7 linked regions of the Homo sapiens genome follow. The protein of the gene in region 3 purifies or fractionates together with the protein of the main gene of each other region. This does not show direct contact. Each region holds a gene or a part of one and is shown on either strand. Other genes may lie near its edges. The genes, in order: JOSD1, DDX3X, EIF3F, PRRC2B, EIF4G1, EIF4B and CSTPP1.

Region 1 (2,951 bases), on a different chromosome or scaffold from region 3:
AAAGTGCTGGGATTATAGGCGTCACCCACCACGCCCAGCCAGAGTAAGCCTTTTGTGTGTTTATCAGATCAACCAACACTACAATCTAGGTGGTACTGTTCCCATTTTACAGAAGAGGAAACAGCCACAGAAAGGTAATTGCTCAAGGCTGCAGAGTTAAGTGCTAGACCTGGATTCAAATCCAGGCAGTCCAGCTACAGAACACTGCTGCTGTGCGCTCGGGATGGTGGGGCTGGGCCCAGGCCCGCTGGGTATACATGATCTTTCACTTGTTAACTAGGGAAAAACACTAGTCACCAGTGTGGTACAAACTTGTACTTAGGTGGATTCTTCAAATTGTCAAGATTAGTTTTTATAAATTAAAATAGACTGAAAAATGTCTTAGAGACATCTTTTGAACCAAATCCCATTTCAGTGACTATTTTGTCTGGATTTCTCAGGTGAAAGAGTTAATCAAAGAATGATATGTCTCTAAAAGATGACTTACGCTGGCAATGAACTCCTTTTAAAACAGCGTCATACTAAAGTTTATTTTTCTTTACACAATTATAGAATTCAGGCAGACAAGGAGACATATATGGAGTTTTCCATTTTTAATATTTGGTTAAACAAAATACATCTTTTGTAAACAAACGCAGCACAAGGCCAACAACAAAAAGGAATAAAAGCAAGAAAAACAAAAAGCCTAGGGTTGCCCGTTATTGGGCATCAGGGTCAGGCCTGTTCACTTCCTTAAAGGAAGTGGGGCTTTTTGCCCTTGGGCATCAGCATGGGTCCCTGTTCCTAAGCACCAGAATTGGATATGAACAGAGAAACCAGCCCTGAAATGTTTAAGCGTCTTTGCATATCCCATTGGCTCATGGACTCCAAGTGCATGGGGACTCTTTCAAGTGCCATTTGCACAGGCCCAAGTGGATTTGTGGAGAGGAGTTTCCTCCTCTACCCAAGAAATGGCTTACTATCTGACAGTGCCAGTGGCCCCAAGGTCCTGCTTGTGACAATCAGCAAGGTTGGCTGTAATGTCTGGCTGGTGGTGGTTGGAATGTCATTGTGCAGGGCAGGAAAAGAGCTCCCTGTGGTGCCAAGCAGGTCTGGTGTAGAAAATGGTGCAGAAGAGACTGCGGCCAGTTGCTGAGAAGATATAACGCAGTAGCCGCTTGGTGGCCTGTTACTCAGCATTAAAAAAACGGCCTTGTTGGATTGAAGATACATGTGCAGAAAAAGTGCTGGTGTCAACATGCACTCCAGTCACAGGGGGGAGAAAGCCCAGCTTCACCCCGTTAAGCTTGCTCAGGATCAACATGCAAGCCCCAGGCTGGCTTTGCTGCTGGAGAGAAGTCTGGCCAGTGGGACAGCTCTCAGACCTGCCACGACCATTGATCTGAGGGCCAGCAGGTCACCCCTGCCTGCCACCTGCCTTGAGGCAACCACATCCACTTTGGAGACACGCATATGGTATGATACTTATTTCTCCTCTTTTGTTTTCCAAAGTTACAAGAGAAAAGTGGCCTACAACTATCTGAAGAGGTAGGGGCGGGTTGAACTTCCATTGATACAGAGAGGAAACGACATGAAGATGACCAGCCCAGGTCCTATTCCATCCATACAGCACAGAACCACCCAACCTGAGCTTGGCAACTACAGTGGCAGCCTCCGAGCCTAGAGTGTCTACTGAATTGTGGCTGCCCCTACTCCAAGAAGCCTGTCTTCACAATACTTTCCTCACCCAACGCTGCCCCAAATTAGTGGAATTTGATGTCAAAAGCAGACTTTTTTTTCCTGATTTTGCCAGAGTGAGTGAACTGGGAAAACTGCTCTTTGGCTTCTCTTTTGTCCCAGAGCCTCCTAAATCAATGCTGCGAAATGGTAGGGACAACACTGGAGTGAAGAAACCAAGCCACCCCATGGCTGTCCCAGGTTGGCTTTAGCCACATCCTGTTCAGTATCCTCCTCACTTCATACTAGAATATTAGTTAATTTTTCATTATAAAACTCTGCCGGGTGCGGTGGCTCACGCCTGTAATCCCAGCACTTTGGGAGGCCAAGGCGGGCAGATCACTTGAGGTCGGGAGTTTGAGACCAGCCTGACCAACATGGAGAAACCCCATCTCTACTAAAAATACAAAATTAGCCAGGTGTGGTGGCAGGCGCCTGTAATCCCAACTACTTGGGAAGCTGAGGCCTGAGAATCGCTTGAACCAGGAGGTGGAGGTTGCAGTGAGCCGAGATGGTGCCATTGCACTCCAGCCTGGGCAACAAGAGTGAAACTCAGTCTCAAAAACAACAACAAAAAACCTCCACGTATGGCCATAAACCACCCTTAAACCTGGGGATAAGGGTTGGAGACAGCATGCTGTACCGCTGCTAGGGTTTTGGACATGGTTTCCTGAGAGACCTTTATGCTCTGGGTCCTTCAAACCAGTCACATGGGGTTTGTGGGCACTATCTGCAGACCCACTGTTTTCAGACCCAGACAGGATGGAAAGTGGAGGCAGCATCTCTAGGTGAGTCTGGAGCAGCAGTGACAACTCAGCAGAACCTGTGTCAAGTCCTCATAGAAAAGGGAAAATAAGCTAGGATTCCCTCCCCGCTCCACTTTCTCCTCTGTCTCTTAAATAAAACAAGGGTTTGTGACCACTGGCCTTAAGTGCACAGAACTCCTACCTTCCTTGCCCAGGAACAAAACACTGAGTAGTTCTTATAACAGTCCACACGTCTGTCCTATTGCACTGTCAGATCTGAAGGGGAAAAACTTGATGAGATGTTTGGGGAAGTGGCAAGGGCAGACCCACTGTAGAGGCCACAGCACGTCACAGAGGACTGAAGGGGCTGAGGCGAGAGGGAGGTTGGGCAGAACTGTTACACATCGGTCCTCCAACTCTGATGAGCCTCTACCTCTTCTGGTACCACCAGCAGGAGTTCACAGTTCTTTCCTCGCAAATGATGTTTTA
Region 2 (3,307 bases), on a different chromosome or scaffold from region 3:
TACCTGTTTTCAGAGATAAGGTCTTGCTATACGTTGCCCAGGCTGGACTTGAACTCGTGGGCTCAAGCAATCTTCCTGCCCCTCAGCTTCCAAGTAAACTAGCACTATAGGACTATGTAATCATCACACCTGGCCCAAATAGTCTTGATTCCTTCCCTAAGTATATACTTACCATCACTTGTTGGACTACTGACACACTTGACTTTTATCCTGCTCATTCTTCCACTGTTCAACCATCCTTCATAATAGATACTTCAAAGAACAAAGAGACTCCCACCCATGTCAAATTGTTCAAAGTATAAGCCAATTTCTAATACATGCTGTATTATCAGTAAGGGCCTTTTAGATTTCCGTCTATTACAAAAATCCTGTTTCACTGTATTTCAAACTAATACTATCTTCATCTTTCATTGCAAATACTTATGGTATGAGTCATTCTGTATCCAAGAGGCATCTCAAAAAATAGCACTGGATGACAAGCAAAAAATAACATTTTACAATTTTTCAGGCAAGAGCACTTTATTTACACCTCTGAAAATAAACCACAATTGACAACAACAAAGGAGACTGTGCAGTTCAACTTTTTATTTTAATAAAATCAGAATATGCACAGCACATGCAGTGCTAGCATCTAAACTAATACAATAAGCAATTACTAAAGCTACAGTGACTTGAGGTTCAATCTTTACATTCAGCAAGTTTAAATCCTTACATGATTTTTGAAACCTTATTAACTGAAAATATTGCTTGCTGATAAAACTTGCTCAAATGCTATTGCTGAATGTACAAGTCACTGATTATGCCAATACAACAAAGATAACCACATGTTTGAGGATTGCAATGTGCCAGACATTCACTGAAAAAAAAAAAAAAACACACAACTAAACAAAATCCACACAACAAACATCTGAGAATCTGGACACTTCACATCAGTGTTTTGAAGTGTTTCATTAATATCTTAAGACAAGTGTATCAAAACCTTGGCATGATTTAATTTCAAGTCGCCAATTTTGTTTTTACTAACATCAGAAAGTTATGGCTACACTGCCAACGCCGGGTCTGCTTAATTTGACTTAAGAGTTTAATATGACTTAAACATTAAAAGCTCACACTACCCCGAAATATATAATTTCACGCATACGGTGACATTCAACATTCAAGTGCCAGTGTTTTTGTACTGTCTTTTGGTCAAGTTTCTTTAAACTTTCAAAGAATCACTTTTAGGCTTACAAAAATAAATATTTGTCAAAATGTTCAATAAATATTACATAAAACTAGCAGCAAAAAGTATCTAGAAATCTGTCGTGTGCAAATAGTTTTCTTCCCAACTATCATTCCCATGGTCCCAAATAAATTTTAGAATCTAGTCCCATCCCCTTCCTAGACAAGCTGCGTTCAACAATCTCCAAGAGACAAAGTAAGATTGGAAGTTTAAGGACACGCACACAAGACATATATATAAAATTCTCTGAATGTGCAATAAAAGAAGTACTTTGTAAAAAGTTATGGGCAAAATGTACAAGGGCCTAAACCTAGACTAATTGAAATAGCACCATAACAAATGACCTCAATACTGTCAAGTGCACCTACTTAATAAAAGTTTTAGAACAAGGCACAATACACTTGAAAATCTATTGCACTTTAGGAAATTTTTGCCGTCTTCCTATGCCACTGTAAAAAGATGGAGCGTTTTGATCACCGCATTCTGGCCACAAAATTAGCACAGAATTCAAAGTGGCAGAGGCATTTTAGTGGTGGACAATGCTCATCTTTGGCCAGATTTAGCATAAACAGACTATAAATACAATGGAAACCTATGCAACTAAAACTGACTAAAACTGCACTGTAGAGCAGAATTGACACCTTGTGCAGTTATGTACATATTTCCAACCTGTGTGATCTCAAAGATTTCAGTTTGTTACTCTTCTGGAGCCATTTTTACGAAGTCTATAGTAAGCCAGTTTAACATCTCAACGCAGCTTGAACAGAGTAATGTGAATCGGCATTTAAAATAAAGCCTGCTGCATTTAATTCTTCCTGTTCATACCCTCTTGACCAAAAAACATCAACACTAGCATGCGTTATTAGACCAAAAATCATCCAGGGCCCTAATGAGGGCTGGTCATTGCTGTGGTCAGCCATTCTACCATTTCAATTTCATTTATGGCAGGCATTTAAAAAGTCTAAGTAGATGAATTCTCCTAAAAACCTATTTCAAGTTATCAGACCTTTAAACTTTCCCTGTAATAGTATGCCCACATTTGGCTAGCTCATAATTAATGATCTGCCTAAACGTTGAAAGAGGAATTGCTGTATTTACTTGCATTAACTTTGAAAACAGTGCTTTGAATGTATGCATGTATTCATACATCACCTCATCATGACTGGAATGGCTTAAAGACTATCAGGTTCTAAATACCTATCCAGGATAGAGTGAGCAAATCAGAACTTTAACTTAATACAGTTTGCCACATTAGAAACTAATTCCATTAATATGCTTCAAGACATTTGTTGTTTTCCCCCAATCTGCAAGTATCAAAAAGCCCTAATGCAGGCTACCGCATAAGTTTTTCCTTATATTATTTATGGATGAATCGATGATTCCTGTTAAGTTGTATCACACCTGTGTGCCAAGGTTTGATTTTAGCCCAAGTTCAGTAAATTTATTTTGTCAAAACAATTGATATCTTGAGCATTACTGAGCCAACAGGACATCAAAATAAAAAGTTGTCTAAAGTTAAAGGCACAGTACATTAACAAACAAATGATCCTCAGTCACAAAATTATAAATGCAGTTTGGGATGGGGGTAGGCGGGAGGGGAGTTAATCCAAACTACAGCAATGAAGTCTTCAAACCACCTTCTGAACAGGGCTGCTGATTGTTCCTTTCATTTCTTCTTGTGACCTTGAGCTCCCTTAAAAAAAAAATTTCAGTGGAGAATCACAGCTGGTAATGTACTGCGAGTTCTTGAAGCTACACAAGGTATAGTCTGGCTAAGTTACATGTGGTTTCCATATTAGCTTGTTTGGCAGGGTGACCTACTGCAAAGCAGGCTCAGTTACCCCACCAGTCAACCCCCTGGGAGTTATAATTTCCTCCATATCCATCACTGTTGTAAAAGCCTCCATAGCCACCTAATGAGAGATTTAAAAAGAGAGAGAAATTAATGAAGTTATCCATCATTAAATACAATCCTTCCCTTACGTAATTTGCCATCAAGTTTCTATAGTGCTGAACTTAAATTGTTTAATTAGGCTTTGAAAAAGATGACTAAAAGGAAAAAAACCCTTCCCAAAGCTATGAAGT
Region 3 (2,508 bases):
TCAGCCTCCCCAGTCTCTGGGACTACAGGTGTGCACCACTGCTCCTGGCCATATCTTATTTTTTAAAGGAAAGCCATTACAGATATAATTGAAACCACGTCTGCATCCCTTGCCAATACTGTTCCCTCTCTTCCTCTTTTACTCTCCAGAAGTAGTATCTTAAATTTGATTTTATCATTTTTCGCATGTTTCCTACTTTTTTTTTGAGACGGAGTTTTGCCCTTGTTGCCCAGGCTGGAGTGCAGTGGCGTGATCTTGGCTCACCGCAACCTCCACCTCCTGGGTTCAAACGATTCTCCTGCCTCAGCCTCCCAAGTAGCTGAGAGTACAGGCATGCGCCACCACACCTGGCTAATTTTTGTATTTTTAGTAGAGATGGGGTTTCTCCATGTTGGTCAGGCTGGTCTCAAACTCCTGACCTCAGGTGATCTGCCCACCTCGGCCTCCCAATATTTCCTACTTTTTATAGTATATGTAAAAATATAAGGTATTGTTTCATGTTTTTCATGTTTTTATATTTTTATATATTTTTTTGAAAAATTACATTAACAGCATAAAATTCAAAAGTTATACAGAAGAAACAATAAGAAGTAAATCTTTCGTCCTGTCCTGTGCCCCATCTAGTACCTTAAGACAATCAGTGATAGTAGTTTCTTGGCTGTACCTTCACAAATATTCTAGGTATTTATATTATTTATTTTCCCGTACACAACAACAGCATATTATAGACAACATTCTCTCCTGGCTTTTTTCACTTACTCTTTATCCATATTGATATATAGAGGACTGTCTCATTCTGCTTAACAGCTGCATAGTATTGTGTTTTATGGATATATCATACTTTGTTTAATTTCTATTCTGGTAATAGTCATTTGGGTTGATTACCATCTTTACGCTATGATAACCAAGTATTTCAGTACTTATCTATGTATTCATTACATTGTGTCATAACGAGACCAGTTTATTTGTAGGATATATAATGAGGAGTGGAATTCCTGGGTTAAGGGCATGCATATTTGTAATTTTGACAAACACAAAATTACATAGAGAGGGCTGTACCAACTTATATGTCTACCAGCAATCTGTGCCTGTGTCACGTTTCCTCTTACTCTGGCCATTCCAGTGTTAGCAACTTTTAAAATTTGCGAATCTGATTTTTAAAAATGACATCGTTTTAATTTATGCTTTATCAGTGAGATCAAGCATCTTTTCACATTTGTGTGTCTGTGTGTGAGCTGTCTGGTCATATCCTTTACACACTAATGTATCAAATTACTGGCCTTAAAAAACTGTAGGAATTCTGGGACAAGAATATTAGCCCTTTTTTTGATATGAACTGCAAATATTTTCCCAGTTTTATATTTGTATTGACTATTTGTGTATGTGTGTAATTTGACACTCAGATTTTAAAAATGTTGCTAAATTTGTCAGTCTTTTAAAATAACTCCTGGATTCTCAGTTCTTAGAAAGTTCTTCCTCACTCATAAATCATTAAAAACACATTGCTGTGTTTTTTCCCTCATATTTATGGTTTTTTTTTCAGACAAGTTTTTATTCCATGAGCAACTTATTTTGGTGCAGGTAACGAAGTAGGAATCCAACATTGTTTCCAAATTACCACTCATTCGCTCTTAAGTAATCTATCTTTACTTGCTTGAAAACACAACTTTATCATATTCTAGAATTCTGATATCTTTAAATTGACAAAAACTGTATGTATTTTGTACAATGTGATGTTTTGATATATGTACACATTGCGAAATTGATTACCACAATCAAGCTAGTTACATCCATCACCTCACATATTCATTTCTCCTGGTGAGATCTACTCCTAGCAATTTTCAAGTATACATTAACTAGTCACCCTGCTGCACAACAGGTCTCCGGAACGTACTACTCCTGTTTAACTGAAACTTTGTACCCTTGACCAACATCTCCCCATTTATCCCCTCCCTCCAGTCCATGAAACCACCTTTCTACACTCTGCTTGTGAGTTCAATTTTGTGATTCCATATCCAAGTGAGATCATGGCTTATTTCACTAGCATAGTGTCCTCCAGGTCCATCCATGTTGTTGTAAATCAGTTATTTCCTTCTTTTAAGGTTAATAATATTCCATTGTGTAGATGTACCTTTTTTTTTTTTGAGATGAAGTCTCACTCTTCTCACTCTTGTCGCTCAGGCTGGACTGCAGTGGCGGAATCTCAGCTCACTGAAATCTCCACTTCCTGGGTTCAAGCCATTCTCACTTCAGCCCGAGTAGGTGGGATTACAGGCGCCCTCCAAGATGCCTGGCTAATTTTTGTATCTTTTGTAGAGACGGGGTTTCATCATGTTGGCCAGGCTGGTCAAGAACTTCTGACCTCAAATGATCCACCTGCCTTGGCCTCCCAAAGTGCTGGGATTACAGGCGTGGGCCACCGCGCTCAGCCCTATCTATCTTCTGTTGATGGACACTTAGGTTGATGTCTTGGCGATTGTGAACAATGCTTCAGTGAACGTGGAAGTA
Region 4 (3,500 bases), on a different chromosome or scaffold from region 3:
CCATGTCCGTGTGCAAACATACGTGTAAGGCTGCCCCCACCGGCTCTGCCTGCTCCTGGGGAAAGTGGCTCCCCAGGGCTCTCCCACATGCTATGTTCAGAGTGTAGGGGGGAGAGAGACAAGGGGAATATGCTCAGAATGGAGACGCCAGCATTTCTGCTCCTCTCCAGGACTGCCCTGCCGGAGGGCCCTTGGGGCAGAAAACTGAGGTGAAGCCAAGGGTCAGCCTCTGGCGCCTGGAAAGCTGGATTAGATGCCACCTGAAAGAGTCGGTGTTCCCTGTGGCTCCTTCTCTGGGAGTTTCTCTGCCTTGAATTCTAAGGAGAGTGGAGGTGTGAAGCCATCTTCCTCAGTATGCTGAGGACAGGGAAGGCCTCAGCAGCCCCTGCACCTCCCTGTCCGAGGCACAAGCCAAGTGCAGTCAGTCAACCCAGACTGTGCAGGGGACCCTCTCCTGGTCCCTGAGCAGAGGTCATCACCCGAATGCCTCTGGCTGTGGAAGAGGTGCTCGCCAGACCATGTGCAGCCTGCTCCCCTCTGCGTTTGCTGGGCTCCTGCCATGCTGAGGTGGCAACCCCACCGTGGGGCCACGTCTCCTCACAGTGGAGAAGCAGAACCATCTAGGAAGAGCCACTTCCATGCAGCCACGAGGCCAGCGATGCCCCCTAGGACGCCGCCTGGCAGCAACTCCGGAGCAGAGGACTCTGGTGGACTGACCGGCACCTGGCACTGTGCACAGGCAACGTTCCTCGCTGCAGCGGCCCCTCGGCGGGGCTCCAGGGACACATGACTGGACTCTCAGGTCAGGTGCTGGACAGTGGCCTCAAGAGCACCACTGGGGTGGGGGTGGGGGTGGGAGCTCTAGCCACAATAACACCACCACGAGAAGCAGACAGGCAATGTGGGGGCAGGCAATGGAGACGCGCACAGACGGCCTGGGGGCAGGCCCCCAGCCCCGACACACGGCGGCATCGGCATGCATGCGTGAACTCAGTGCTGCTGAGAACAGAACACAACAACAAAAAGGGCCCAGATGGTGTCTGGTTTTACCTTTTCACTTTCAAAGGCGTCCCATTCTGTTGGCTCTCATAGCGAGGGGAGGTGTCACCACCACCTGGCCTAACGGGCTTCTCCCCAAACCCTCCCGGCTCCAGCTTTCGGCTCTGTCTGTCAACCACGGGTCTCTGACTGGAGAAGCTCCTCTTGGCCAGCTCCTTCTTCTCACCCAAACTAGCCCCCGACAGGCCACCATCCACCTGGGAGTCGGGCTCGGACCCAGGGCCTTCCCGCCGCTCCCGCCGCTCGCTGAAGTCGCTGCTTTCGGAGGCCGTCTCCCACTCCTCATTGGCGTGATCGGAGGAGTTCTGGTAGGAGAGCTCAGGGGACCTGCGGCCCACAGTGCCACTCTTGTCCCCAGAACACAGTTTGGGCCTGCCTGGCCACTGACCTGCCAGCAGGTGGGGCTCCTCCTCGGGTCCCCACAGGCCCAGGGACTCCCGCTCTTGCCGGAGGCGCCGGAATCGAGGGGGCTTATCTTGGCGTGGGGGGCGCCTTCTCCTGAAGGGCCGGTTCTCTGCATTTTCAGAATCTGCCACGTGTTCATCTTGGAAGAAGGATCTCTTGTCCTCCGCGCGGCTGTCCTCAAAGCCCCGGCCACCAAATGCGTCAGGGTGTCTGTAGGAATCTGGGACATAGTCTCTGTCTGTAGGTCGCCGGGATCCGCATGTGTCGGAAGGGCCATATTCCTGCCAAGAGCTGCCTGGACTTTTGCTCTGCCAGTGGGGTGACTCTTTGGAGACGAAGGTTCTCCGTCCATACCCGCAATTGCTCAGCCGGGGAGGGAGGGCTCGCCCAAAGGCCCGAGGGCCTCGGCTCTTGGCATCTAGACCGCTGTGGTCCTCAGAGCACCCCTTGTTGGACCGCCAAGAATCTCTGCAGTCGCCCTTCTTCAAGGTGCTCTCCTCCCTCTCCAGGAGCGAGCCTTCATTCCCGTTCTCGGAGCCCCTCTGCCGGCGGCGCTTGGGAAGTTCTTCATACTCTGAGCCCTCGCTATGGGTCTCACTGGCAACTCTCCGTCGGGGCTTGGCTCTGGGGCAGTCCTCTGGCCGCGCAAACTCTCGCAGGCCCCGGCCACGGCCGCTGCGCTGACTGCTGCAGTAGATGCTGCGGGCCCCCAGGACCCCCCCACCACAGAGGCCGCTCCCATTTCCGCCAGCAGGCCGACCACGAAAAGTGAACTCTCTGAAACCACGGCCCCGGCCCCGGGCCTGTCCTCTGACCCCAAAGGCTTGCTCCTCATCAATAAAGATCCAGTTATTTCTCTTCATGGGGGGAACATCGCTGGACTCTCGTGGGGGTCTGGCTTCCCAGGCCTTGTCAGGTTTCTCCTCCTCTTCAAATTTGGTGGCCTCGCGGCCAAAAGTGGCATGGCCAGGGCCTTTGTCCTCCAAAGTGGTGGTGGAGGAGTTGGCCAGAGAGGCATCGTTCTCTTCGTCCTCATCCTTTTCTGCCGTGGGGCTCTGCTCCTTCTCCTTGGCCAGCCGGGTACTCTCCTCCCCTAGCTCCTGCTTAATCTTCTCAAGCTCCTTCTCCTTGTCTTCCACCTTGAGGGCTTTCAGGACTGGTTTCTTGATGGGTCCCGACCTCCGGGTCCTGCCCGTCTGCTCCGGGTGCTGGCTGCTGGAGCTCCGGGGCTCGGGAGTCCATTCAGGCTCCGAGGATGGCTGTTTGTTGGGGCTCCCGTTCTTGTCCCAGGAGGAGATGTTAAAGGCCGTCCCCTCCCGGGGTGTCTCCCGCTCAACACCATGGGCTGTGTCAGCGGTCTCTGGCTGGTGGCTAACATCCCAACTGCCACACTCTGGCTTTTTCTCATCTGGGACAAAGTCAGGCTCCAATGGGGAACACCTGAGGTTTTGGGTGTGACCCCCAGGAGCACCTGCATCCTGAACATTTTCTTGGGGTGGAAACAAAAGCTCCTGGCCTATTCTTTGAGAAGAGATACAGCTGTCAAAGTCTGCTTGGGCCTTCTTGTCAAAAGCACTCAAGTACTCCTCCCCTCTCTCCTCAAAGAGATCGCGCTGAGCACTTACGCCCCCTGCCCTTCCGAGTGAGGCAGAGAAAGAGCTTTCATTCCTGAAAAGGAACCAGAAAAATCAGTCAATGCGATTGGAGCCTGGTTCCTGGTTTCCATGCTGAACACAGAGCTTAGTTTTAAAAAGAAAAAACAAAAACAAAAACTAAAACACTTTTTAAAAAGAAAGCTAGAAAAACAAAACAAAAAACAACAACCAAAAAAAAACATAAGCATCAACATTTGTTCTATCTTTAAACACGTCTCAGAAATGCCAGGCCATGAATTGGTCGGTGGCCCCTGGAGTCCTTGAGAGTGAAGACTGTCGTGGCCGCAGGCTGGGTACGGTGTGCCCCCTGGAGACAGAGGAGCCAGGCAATCCTCCGGGTCAAAGAGCAAGAGCAAGCTGGAGCCTGGGAGGCCGTGAAGA
Region 5 (3,500 bases), on a different chromosome or scaffold from region 3:
GAAATCTAAGTCATCATTCTCTGGTACCCAGTTCAAGTCACTCCACCACCTCAGCATTTAACTGTTAACATTCCCTTTCCCCATAAAAGCTCCGTCCCACCGGCTTACTTACCTGGCCGGACAATGACAGCAACCTGGGGCGTCTCCCCATTAGCTTGAGGCTCCAGACCGCCTCCCGTCTGCAGGACACAAAGGGTTACCAAGTTTGCACTGAAGAGTCCCACAACCCTTCTTTACTAGAGCCATTTCTACTTTAGCTCTGCCTAGAAATCCAGGAAAGCAGGGAAATAAATCCCTTAGTTGAAAGAAAAGATCCAGGGACTTGGGAGTCCAGGGCAGAACAGACATCCCAGCCAGGGTATCACTCGAAAAGCAGACAGTACCTGGGGAGGGGTGGGTGTGGAGGCAGTGCGGGCCCCAGACATGATCTCCTCTGTGATATCCTTTCCTCCTTGGTTTGGATCTCGAATTCGGATCTGGGGAAAGAAAGCTATAAGATGAGTGGGAAGCAGGAAGAGCCCACCTCTCCACCCTGCCCCAATCTTAAGACTCTGGGCCAACTCCCCACCCCCCAGCGGGAAGCAGGTAGGTAGGTGCCAGAAACCCCTTGAGTTCCACTTTCAGCCCATCTGGCTGCTCTCGTAGTCCCTGCCCCAGCTCCCACCCTTAAGAGACCCTTGATCTCACAGAGCAGCCCTGTACATCACAATGCCCCTCCCTCCCTCATCCCTACCCCACCAGCAGTCCCCAAGTCAGTGGCTGCACACCCTGGGGCCCAGGACCCCCATCTAGAACCCAATCGGCTCACTTGTGGCTAGTGTGCCTGATCTCTGGGGGCAGGGCCCAGATCCAGTAGGTGGAGCCAGGGTGACTCAGCGGCTTCCCCAGCTCTGGCACCCTATTCTGGGCACCACGCCCAGGGCTTGAGGACTGAGCAGAGGCGGAGGCCTTGAGAGCTTCCAGGACTGGGGGGGCAGGGGGGAATGGGGGCTGGGGCCACAGAAAACAAACCATTTCCAAGGCAAGCCACTAGAAACCCAAAACCAAGCATAGTTCTTCCAACCCCCCAGCACCCAGGTCTCGCAGGAACTTCCTCGCTAGGCACTTCAGTCTTCCCATGACCTGCTTCTATGCTGAAATCTTAGCATCTTACAAAGAACCTGAGCCCTCCACAGACACCATTCTCTGCCCACTCTCAGCTCCTTCCTCCTCAAGTCACTGCTCTTTCCGGCACAATGTCCCAGCAGCACCTGACCTTGATTCTCCCCTTCCCAGATGTCCCGGAGCCCCTCACTGCTACTCACCGTCTTACGCTCCCTCTTGGGAGCAATCTGGGGTGGCTGGTTCATCAAAACTGGGGTGGGGGCCACGCCAGTGGGAAACTGCTGCACCCCTTGGGCTGGATAGTAGGCGCCAGCTTGGGGGAGGGGGGACGGAGAAGAATGGTGGTAGCGTCAGGGCCCAACCATATACTAATGCCTGCCTGACACCTCCCACCCCAAAACCTCTCACCACCCACAGCCGGCCCCTTGCCTTGCCCTGCCCTGCCCTCCTCCCCCAGGGAATTAGGTGTCTGTCAAAGCTGGGGAACCAGTCTGAACTGCGTTTACAAGAATTCCTAACACACACACACACACAAACACACACACACACACACACACACACACACACACACACACCCCTCGTAGGCAGGCACTCTTTCCTACCACACACCAGTGACCAGGAGGACTTATGTCTGTCCTTCCACCGTACAAGTTACTCTCGTGTGTGTACCCCACCCGCTATCAACATGTACACACATACTCTGAACCTGAAACAGAACCAGGTCTTTGGCTGGTAATGAGAGAAAGAGATCTGCCAACCCTGTTCCATTTAACTTGAGTCTAGTTCCTGTCTCCAGCCCTTTACAAAGGGGCAAAGAAACAAAGTAACATTATGAACTAGGCTCAAGATGAAGAAAAATTAATTCCTTAAAGCAAACTATCTCCAAAGTGGGTGAGTTCTTTTTTCCCCTTAATTTTTTTTTTTTTTTGAGATGGAGTCTCACTCTATTGCCCAGGCTGGAATACAGTGGCACAATCTTGGTTCACTGCAATCTCCACATCCCGGGTTCAAGCGATCCTCCTGCCTCAGCCTCCCGAATAGCTGGGATTACAAGAGTGCATCACCAGGCCTAATTTTTGTATTTTTAGTTGAGACAGGGCCAGGCGTGGTGGCTCACGCCTATAATCTCAGCACTTTGGGAGGCTGAGGCAGGTGGATCACTTGAGGCCAGGAGTTCGAGACCAGCCTGGTCAACATGATGAAACACCATCTCTACTAAAAACACAAAAATTAGCTGGGTGTGGTGGCACACGCCTGTAATCCCAGCTACTCGGGAGGCTGAGGCAGGAGAATCACTTGAACCCAAGAGGCGGAGGCTGCAGAGAGCCAAGACTGTGCGACTACATTCCAGCCTGGGTGACAGAGCGAGACTCCGTCTCAAAAAGAAAATTAAAATAATAACAATAAAATTTAGTAGAGACGGAGCTTCACTATGTTGGCCAGGCTGGTCTCGAACACCTGACCTCAAGTGATCCGCCTGTCTTGGCCTCCCAAAGTGCTGGGACTACAGGCGTGAGCCACCGTGCTCAGCCCCCCTCAAATTTTAAAATAGAGACAGGGTCTCACTAAGTTTCCCAGGCTGGTCTCAAACTCCTGGCCTTAAGCAGTCCTCCTGACTCCCAAAGTGCTGGGATTACAAGCAAGATCCGGGCACATTCTTTAATTTCATCCCTAAATTCCACTTGTTTTTGACAAGCACAAGTGTATTTGTTTAAATTTTGCATACATATAAACAAAAACATACATGTATGAGAGATTCATACTCAAAACTTTTCCTGATAGGTGATCAAAAAACTTGGAAGCCACTGCCATAAAGAACAGACTAATCCTTCCCTAGAACATAAATAAAAAATAGCTACAAAAACCTCCCAAATTTGCATTACATGGGCTCCCAACCATGGAAGAAGTGTCACAGGGAAAGCCTACTAATAGGCTCTCAGGCTGGTGCCTGATCCTACATTCCCTGATGTGGGAAAGACTCTTAACTCTCCTGGCAATAAAATCAAATTTTCTCCCCACAATCAACACCAGTTAAATATTAAGCACCAATCCCTACCACCTATTAACCTTATCATTTTTAGACCAGAAGCCAAGCCTGGGAAGGGTCTTCTGCTTTAGAAATCAGCAGATGAGTTTAGATGCTCCCTTGGGCTTGTTCTCACCTCTGACTCCCTCCCCTGCTTACCGTAGGTCCCAAATTCTGTAGGGCTTGCACCTGGATAGAAGCCTGGGGCTCCTGGCTGCACAGGGTACTGCTGTGTCGGGACAACGTATGTGGAACGCCCCTGGTGGGGAAGGGGGAGAGGGAGAGAAGGAGTTGAGGGAGCTATGAGTTCCATATCAGACTCCAAAAAGAACATAGGTCAAGACAAGACAAGCCAACTCTGGGCAATGAC
Region 6 (3,500 bases), on a different chromosome or scaffold from region 3:
ACCTCTCTGGATTGCTGGGTTCACGTGGTAAACGCACTGCACTGATCTGAAGGAATAAGAATCAACAACAAAGTTTCCCAGCATTCTTCTTCATTTGTCATTTTTTGAGAGGACTACAAAAGCATTACTGTATGTGCATGAATTTTTCTGAATACACAAGAACATGGTTGTCTCAGGAGGAAAACTGATGCAGAGGGATAGTAGAAACTTTACTAAATGCCCTATTATACCTTCTGAATTTTGAACTGTATGAATTTAACTCTAAAAAAAAAAAAAAAAAGATTAATTCAGGCCAGGTGCAGTGGCTCATGCCTGTAGTCCCAGCACTTTGGGAGGCCGAAGCAGGTGGATCCTCTGAGGTCAGGAGTTCAAGACCAGCCTGACCAACATAGTGCAACCCTATCTCTACTAAATACAAAAAATTAGCTGGGCATGTAATCCACTGTACTCCAGCCTGGATGACAGAATGAGACTCTGTCTCAAAAAAAAAAAAAAAAAAAAAAAAGAAAAAAAAAAAATATATATATATATAATTTTGATTTTATTTTTTTTCTTTGAGATGGTGTTTCACTCTTGTTGCCCAGGCTGGAGTGCAATGGCGCAATCTCGGCTCACCACAACCTCCGTCTTCCAGGTTCAAGCAATTCTCCTACCTCAGCCTCCCAAGTAGCTGGGATTACAGACGTGTACCACCACGCCCAGCTAATTTTTGTATTCTTAGTAGAGACAGGGTCTCACCACGTTAGCCAGGCTGGACTCGAATTCCTGACCTCAAATGATCCACCCGCCTCAGACTCCCAGAGTGCTGGGATTACAGGCGTGAGCCACCATTCCCGGCCTTAAATTATATTTCTAGTTGTTTTTTCAACAGCAACTGCCCATTCCACAATTAGTCTTTTTTAGACATTATCCTCAATATCTAGTTAATTATTACAACTTTTACACTTACATTTAATCCTCGAAAGAATTCCTTAATTGACTCTTCTGTAACATCATAGGGTAGGTTTCCTAGAAAAGCAGTGTAGGGTGGCGATTTGGGAAGACGGCTCCGGTCGATATTGGGTTCCCGAGCAGCCCGTGGAGCAGTGGGAAGGATGGAACGGTCAATTGGAGGCGCCCTATACACATCGTCATCGTTACTGTGCCAAGTGGTCGAAACTAGGATAGAGGAATGAATGTAAGAAATTAGAAGAAACTTCTCTCACTACTGTCATAGAACAAGAGGACCCATGTTAATTGCCAAATATTAAACATGCTATACAAGAAAACCAGACCAAAAAAAGTGGGGGTTCAGTAATAAGGGCACTTTACGAAGAGAAGCTTCTGAGATTAATTATGACACCTTAATCTTTATGTAAGCAAAGAAATATTATTCCATAAATACAACTCTTTATGGAATATTACTGTGTGCCAGCTACTTTATATTCATTATATCCCATCTTATCTTTTTAACAGTCCTGTGAGGTTGTCCCCCATTCTACAGAAAAGCAAACTCAGATTTCAGACAGTAATTTGCCCAAGGTCACAGACGGTAAAGCTAGGATTCAAACCTGGGTCCCTCTTACTCCAGGTATATTTAACCACTACTGACAACTCTTGTATTCCTAGTGGTGAGTTTGAAGTTGAGTATTTTTCTGCATGGTCTATCCTCCCTTAAAAACAACAACAGGCCTGGCTCGGTGGCTCACACCTATAATCCCAACACTTCGGGAGGCCAAGGTGGGTGATCACCTGAGGTCAGGTTTGAGACCAGCCTGACCATTATGGTGAAACCCTGTCTCTACTAAAAATACAAAAATTAGCCAGGTGTGGTGGCATGTGCCAGTAATCCCATCTACTTGGGAGGCTGAGACAGGACAATCTATTGAACCGGGAGGCGGCAGTTGCAGTGGGCCAAGATATTGTGCCACTGCACTACAACCTGGGCGACAGAGTGAGACTCCATCTGAAAACAAACAAACAAAAATATCACAACAAAAATCTTTTCCTACAGCACTGTCCATGAATTTGTACTTCAGATACCAACACCTATGGGAAGTACGACCTATATAAAATTTCCTGTTTTGGCCGGGTGCAGTGGCTCATGCCTGTAATCCCAGCACTTTGGGAGGCTGAGGCAGGTGGGTCATGAGGTCAGGAGTTCAAGACCAGCCTGGCCAAAATGGTAAAACCCTGATTCTACTAAAAATACAAAATTTGCTGGGCGCGGTGGCGGGCACCTGTAATCCCAACTACTCAGGCGGCTGAGGCAGGAGAATCGCTTGAACCCCGGGAGCAGATGTTGCAGTGAGCAGAGAGTGCGCCACTTGCACCCCAGCCTGGGCAATAGAGACTCTGTCTCAAAAAAAATTTCCTGTTTTTAGGAATTATGAAAACAGGTCATAGGAAAAAATATTCTTTCAGCATGCAATAAACGATTTTCAGGAAAAAAACAATGGTAATGAGATTTATGTCATACCCGGTCATTATAAAACATAGCTCCTTATTATTCCTGGCGACTCCCTGAAGGCACAGAACTTGTCCAATTGACTCTTCTTTATTTTCCCACCATAATTACTGTTCTCACTCCTTTTCCTCAGACCATTTTCGTTTACCCAAGGACACTCTGATTTTATACTAATGACACCTGGAACTAATTATTCCTTGGCTCTGAGTAAACATAGCTTACAGATTACACTGAAACATCACTTTTTTTTTTTTTTTGAGATGGAGTCTCGCTCTGTCTCCCACGCTGGAGTGCAGTGGCATGATCTCAGCTCACTGCACCCTCCGCCTCCCAGGTTCAAGCAATTCTCCTGCCCCAGCCTCCCGAGTAGCTGAAATTACAGGCACATGCCACCACGCCCAGCTAATTTTTGTATTTTTAGTAGAGATGGGTTTTCACCATGTTGGCCAGGCTGGTCTTGAACTTCTCATCTCATGTGATCTGCCCACCTCGGCCTCCCAAAGTGCTGGGATTACAGGTGTAAGCCATCGCGAGCAGCCTGAAACATCACTTTATGAGGACCCCATAGAATTTTAGACCTAAAAGGAATTTTAAAAGATGATCTAGTTCTTACTTTTAAAATGAAGAAAATGAGGCCCAAAAGAATAGTAACTTAAGAAGTCTGTTAATGCAAGAACAAGAACTAGCAAAGCTCTCTTAAATGACCACTTCAGTCTTCACTGCAAAGTCTGACAGCCCAAACCTCAGATTAAACCTTAGATTCTATAAAATATGTAAGATTTCAGGTGCTAAAAAATGAGTAAGTTCTTTTCAGATTACAAACGATGTGAATTATTATGTAATAGGTTTTGTCTAGAAAATAATAAACATTCCAAACACGATGACAAAAGAAAAGTTACCATCTCCTTCCAGGTCATCCGTTTCATCAGCCCAGCTGACTGGTTTGGAAACATAGGTGCTTCCTCCACCAGTACCCCCATCCTCAGCCAGAAAGTCTGTTAGGGAGATAGTCTTCCCCTTCTTATTCTTCTTTTTTGCTGTTTTAAAAGGCAAG
Region 7 (3,500 bases), about 39 Mb from region 3:
AAGACTTTTGGGCTCAGGTTGGCAGGTAAACTTACTTGTTTTATGAGCTTCACTAGACTACCAGGACTTCAGAAATAGTTTTTTGAAATACCAATATTTATAAATTTTAGGTAATTCCATCATATTTTCCTGAGGAATGAAACTGTGAAAGAAGTAAATGTCTACTTTGGCAGCAACTTCATAGAATTGCTTTTTGGAAGGATATTCATCACTTTGGGGTTTTTTGTTCTCACTGCTCCAGATGAAAGTATTTTTCTGAATTTTTTATGGTAAATGTGGACACTGAATTGGAAGCTTCTATGTAAAGTTTGTCAGGAAACCTCTGTCATACCTAAGGATAAAATTCAGAGAAAGGGAAGAAGTATTTGAGTACCTGACATCTAAGAAGTTCTGGCCTATGTTGTTTACTGAGTAAACTCCCAATAATGCTTTGAGACAGGCTTTTAAGGAAACATGTTATCAATCACGTACTATGTACCAAACACATAGTGGTGTTTTACCTGTATTATCTTATTTATTTCTCATAACCCTATAATGTAAGTACCATTATTATCCCCATTTTACCATGAAGAATAGGCTTGAAGAATAATTTGTTTATGGTCACATAACTAGGAAGTGGCAGAGCTGAGAATGGAGCTCTCAACTCTCTGTAATCCAAAGCCCAGGTTCTTAACCAGTGATTCTTAAACTTAAGAGTACATAAGAAGCATCAGGAGTACTTGTTAAAAATTACTGGGCTGTAGTAAAAAATGTAAGGTCACTAAATCTGGGACAGTGCCAGACTATAAATCTGCGTTTTAAACGGCATCCCAGGGGATTCAGATCAAGAAATTGATTGACCATATTTTGAGAAACATAGTTAAATTATATTGCTTTTCACACTTGATAAAGAAGAAAACAGGTGTAGACTAAGTAACTATCCAAGATTAAGCTACCAAGACAGAGCCATGATTCAAACTCAGGTCTGTCTCACTCTAATACTCATACTTTTTATTATACGCCCATGATTAACTCACACATTTCCAAGTCACAACAAATGCAGAAAACATGACATCTAATAAACCAAGCCAGATAGATTTCATGGTCTTGTTATTTACCAAAGTTAATAACTTATATATACACCAGTACGAAAATTTTCATGGTCCTTAAACCTTTCCAGTGACTTTTTTTTTTTTTTTCTAATTTAAATTAACTGAGTTTTCTTTTTTTTCTGTTCTGAAATGAAGTCTGGCTCTGTCGCCCAGGCTGGAGTGCAATGGCATGATCTTGGCTCACTGCAACCTCCACCTCCCAGGTTCAAGCAATTCCCCTGCCGCAGCTTCCTGAGTAGCTGGGATTACTAGCTACTCAGGAAGTAGCCACTGCATCTGGCTAATTTTTGTATTATTGGTAGAGACAGGTTTTCACCATGTTGCCAAGCTGGTCTCGAACTCCTGACCTCAAGTGATCCACCCGCCTCAGCCTCCCAAAATGCTGGGATTACAGGCCTGAGCCACTGTGCCTGGCCAGAGTTTTCTTTACAATCATACCATCCATGCTTCAAGCATGGAATTACTAACTCCCTGGGATAAGTTTCTGATGCAGAAATGGAAAAGAATAGAAGGAGGTAGAAAGAAAAGAACTTCCAGGTGTATCTGCTGAATGGTGCTAAATCTCCTCTTCAACCCACCCTTGTGATTGAGATGAAGAATGAAGGGTTGATGCTAATACTAACAGCCAGTCAAATGGCAATTGGTCATGTTCACATCATCTCCCAATCTATCCTTTGAGACTATAGCTCAGTTAGGGTCAGCAAGTTTGCTTTGCCTATTCCAGTCCACTGATGAAGTGTCATCAGACAGAGCCAACACCTGGATTGCCTTACACATGACCTCCTACTAGGATTGGGATCATTCTTTTTAAAATCTTTCTCTCATTTTCTCTTTCTCTCTTGCTATTTGATTGCAGCTCAGCGACATGTCCTCACCTACATGGAGGATGCAGTGTGCCAGCTGCTAGAAAACAGGGAAGATATTAGCCAATATGGAATTGCCAGGTTCTTCACTGAATAGTAAGTACATGAATGTTGTACTAATACAGTGAACCCAGAGGAGGCGCTTGGAAGCAGGCAGGATACTTGAGGAACAGAGCAGGACAATGCTGATTAGGTAGTGGCAGTGAATGTTTAGTTTTGGTAGGTTGGTTGTGGGCCGCCCAAACATGTTTTGGAGCATGCCTTTGGTGCAGCTAGTTTGTCCAGTGATGTCTCATGAATAGTTTTGATTACAGTAGCTTAACAACTGCTTGTTTGATCTATTAGATCTATTTCTGTAGGTTTCTCTTTTAACTTTCTCCTTTATTCAAAATATTCACTTTGATTTCCTTTCGCTGATGTTCATCTAGCCTGTTTTTTTTCATGGCTGGCTTTTCTCATGGAATCTAGGCTAATGTTCCTCTGCAGTTTTCTTTCTACAGGATGCTGTGCCAATCACTTAATGATTTAAGTGTATTTCTAATCAGCAAAGTGAAGAGACAACCCACAGAATGGGAGAAAGTATTTGCAAACTACCCATCTGACAAGGGATTAATAACCAGAATATATAAGGAGCTCAAATATCTCTATAGGAAAACATCCAATAATCCCATCAAAAAATGGACAAAAGATGTGCATAGACACTTCTCAAAACAAGACATACAAATGGCAAACAGGCATAAGCAAAGGTGCTCAACATCATTGATCATCAGAGAAATGCAAATCAAAACTACAATGAGATAACATCTCACCCCAGTTACAATGGCTTGTATCCTAAAGACAGGCAATAACAAATGCTGGCGAGGATGTGGAGAAAGGGAACCCTTCTACACTGTTGATGGGGATGTAAATTAGTATAACCACTGTGGAGAACAGTTTGGAGGTTCCTCAAAAAACTAGGAATAGGGCTGCCATATGATCCAGCAATTCAACTGCTGGGTATATACCCAAAAGAAAGGAAATTAGTGTATCGAATAAATATCAGTACTCCTATGTTTGTTACAGCACTGTTTAGAGTACTAAGATTTGGAAGCAATCTAAGTGTCCATCAACAGATGAATGGGTAAAGAAAATGTGGTACATATACACAATGGAGTATTATTTGGCCCTAAGAAAGAATGAGATCCTGTCATTTGCAACAACATGAATGGAACTGAAGATCATTATGTTAAGTGAAATAAGCCAGGCACAGAAAGACAAACATTGGATGTTCTCACTTGTTTGTGGGATGTAAAAATCAAAACAATTAAACTCATGGACAAAGAGAATAGAAGGATGGTTACCAGAGATTGGGAAGGGTAGCAGGGGGCTGGGGGAAGAGGTGGGGATGGTTGATGGTTACAAAAAAGAAAAAAAAGAATGAAAAAGACCTGCTATTTGATAGCACAACAGGGTGACTCTAGTCAATGATAACTTAATTGTTCATTTTAAAATAACTCAAAGGGTACATTTAGATTGTTTGTAACACAAAGGAAAAATGCTTGATGGG

The links.
Region 1: the proteins of EIF3F (region 3) and JOSD1 purify together in Homo sapiens (affinity purification with mass spectrometry; 3 studies listed by BioGRID and IntAct, with this or other methods). This does not show direct contact.
Region 2: the proteins of EIF3F (region 3) and DDX3X purify together in Homo sapiens (affinity purification with mass spectrometry; 3 studies listed by BioGRID and IntAct, with this or other methods). This does not show direct contact.
Region 4: the proteins of EIF3F (region 3) and PRRC2B purify together in Homo sapiens (affinity purification with mass spectrometry; 5 studies listed by BioGRID and IntAct, with this or other methods). This does not show direct contact.
Region 5: the proteins of EIF3F (region 3) and EIF4G1 purify together in Homo sapiens (affinity purification with mass spectrometry; 3 studies listed by BioGRID, with this or other methods). This does not show direct contact.
Region 6: the proteins of EIF3F (region 3) and EIF4B purify together in Homo sapiens (affinity purification with mass spectrometry; 3 studies listed by BioGRID). This does not show direct contact.
Region 7: the proteins of EIF3F (region 3) and CSTPP1 purify together in Homo sapiens (affinity purification with mass spectrometry; 3 studies listed by BioGRID and IntAct, with this or other methods). This does not show direct contact.

What each region holds. Positions count from the first base shown.
Region 1 is NC_000022.11:38,685,043-38,687,993, forward strand, and holds the end of JOSD1 (josephin-1), read right to left. Parts: coding exon 2,860-2,951; 3' UTR 501-2,859; downstream 1-500.
Region 2 is NC_000023.11:41,347,468-41,350,774, reverse strand, and holds the end of DDX3X (ATP-dependent RNA helicase DDX3X), read right to left. Parts: intron 3,136-3,307; coding exon 3,056-3,135; 3' UTR 501-3,055; downstream 1-500. UniProt on the Homo sapiens protein: Multifunctional ATP-dependent RNA helicase. The ATPase activity can be stimulated by various ribo-and deoxynucleic acids indicative for a relaxed substrate specificity.
Region 3 is NC_000011.10:7,999,845-8,002,352, reverse strand, and holds the end of EIF3F (eukaryotic translation initiation factor 3 subunit F), read right to left. Parts: 3' UTR 501-2,508; downstream 1-500. UniProt on the Homo sapiens protein: Component of the eukaryotic translation initiation factor 3 (eIF-3) complex, which is required for several steps in the initiation of protein synthesis.
Region 4 is NC_000009.12:131,474,086-131,477,585, reverse strand, and holds part of PRRC2B (protein PRRC2B), read right to left. Parts: intron 3,133-3,500; coding exon 1,051-3,132; intron 1-1,050.
Region 5 is NC_000003.12:184,317,606-184,321,105, reverse strand, and holds part of EIF4G1 (eukaryotic translation initiation factor 4 gamma 1), read right to left. Parts: intron 3,390-3,500; coding exon 3,290-3,389; intron 1,418-3,289; coding exon 1,305-1,417; intron 844-1,304; exon of another isoform or gene 477-843; coding exon 384-476; intron 180-383; coding exon 113-179; intron 1-112.
Region 6 is NC_000012.12:53,016,456-53,019,955, reverse strand, and holds part of EIF4B (eukaryotic translation initiation factor 4B), read right to left. Parts: intron 3,484-3,500; coding exon 3,346-3,483; intron 1,159-3,345; coding exon 950-1,158; intron 47-949; coding exon 1-46. UniProt on the Homo sapiens protein: Required for the binding of mRNA to ribosomes. Functions in close association with EIF4-F and EIF4-A. Binds near the 5'-terminal cap of mRNA in presence of EIF-4F and ATP.
Region 7 is NC_000011.10:46,985,261-46,988,760, forward strand, and holds part of CSTPP1 (centriolar satellite-associated tubulin polyglutamylase complex regulator 1), read left to right. Parts: intron 1-1,947; coding exon 1,948-2,050; intron 2,051-3,500. UniProt on the Homo sapiens protein: Regulator of the tubulin polyglutamylase complex (TPGC) that controls cytoskeletal organization, nuclear shape, and cilium disassembly by balancing microtubule and actin assembly.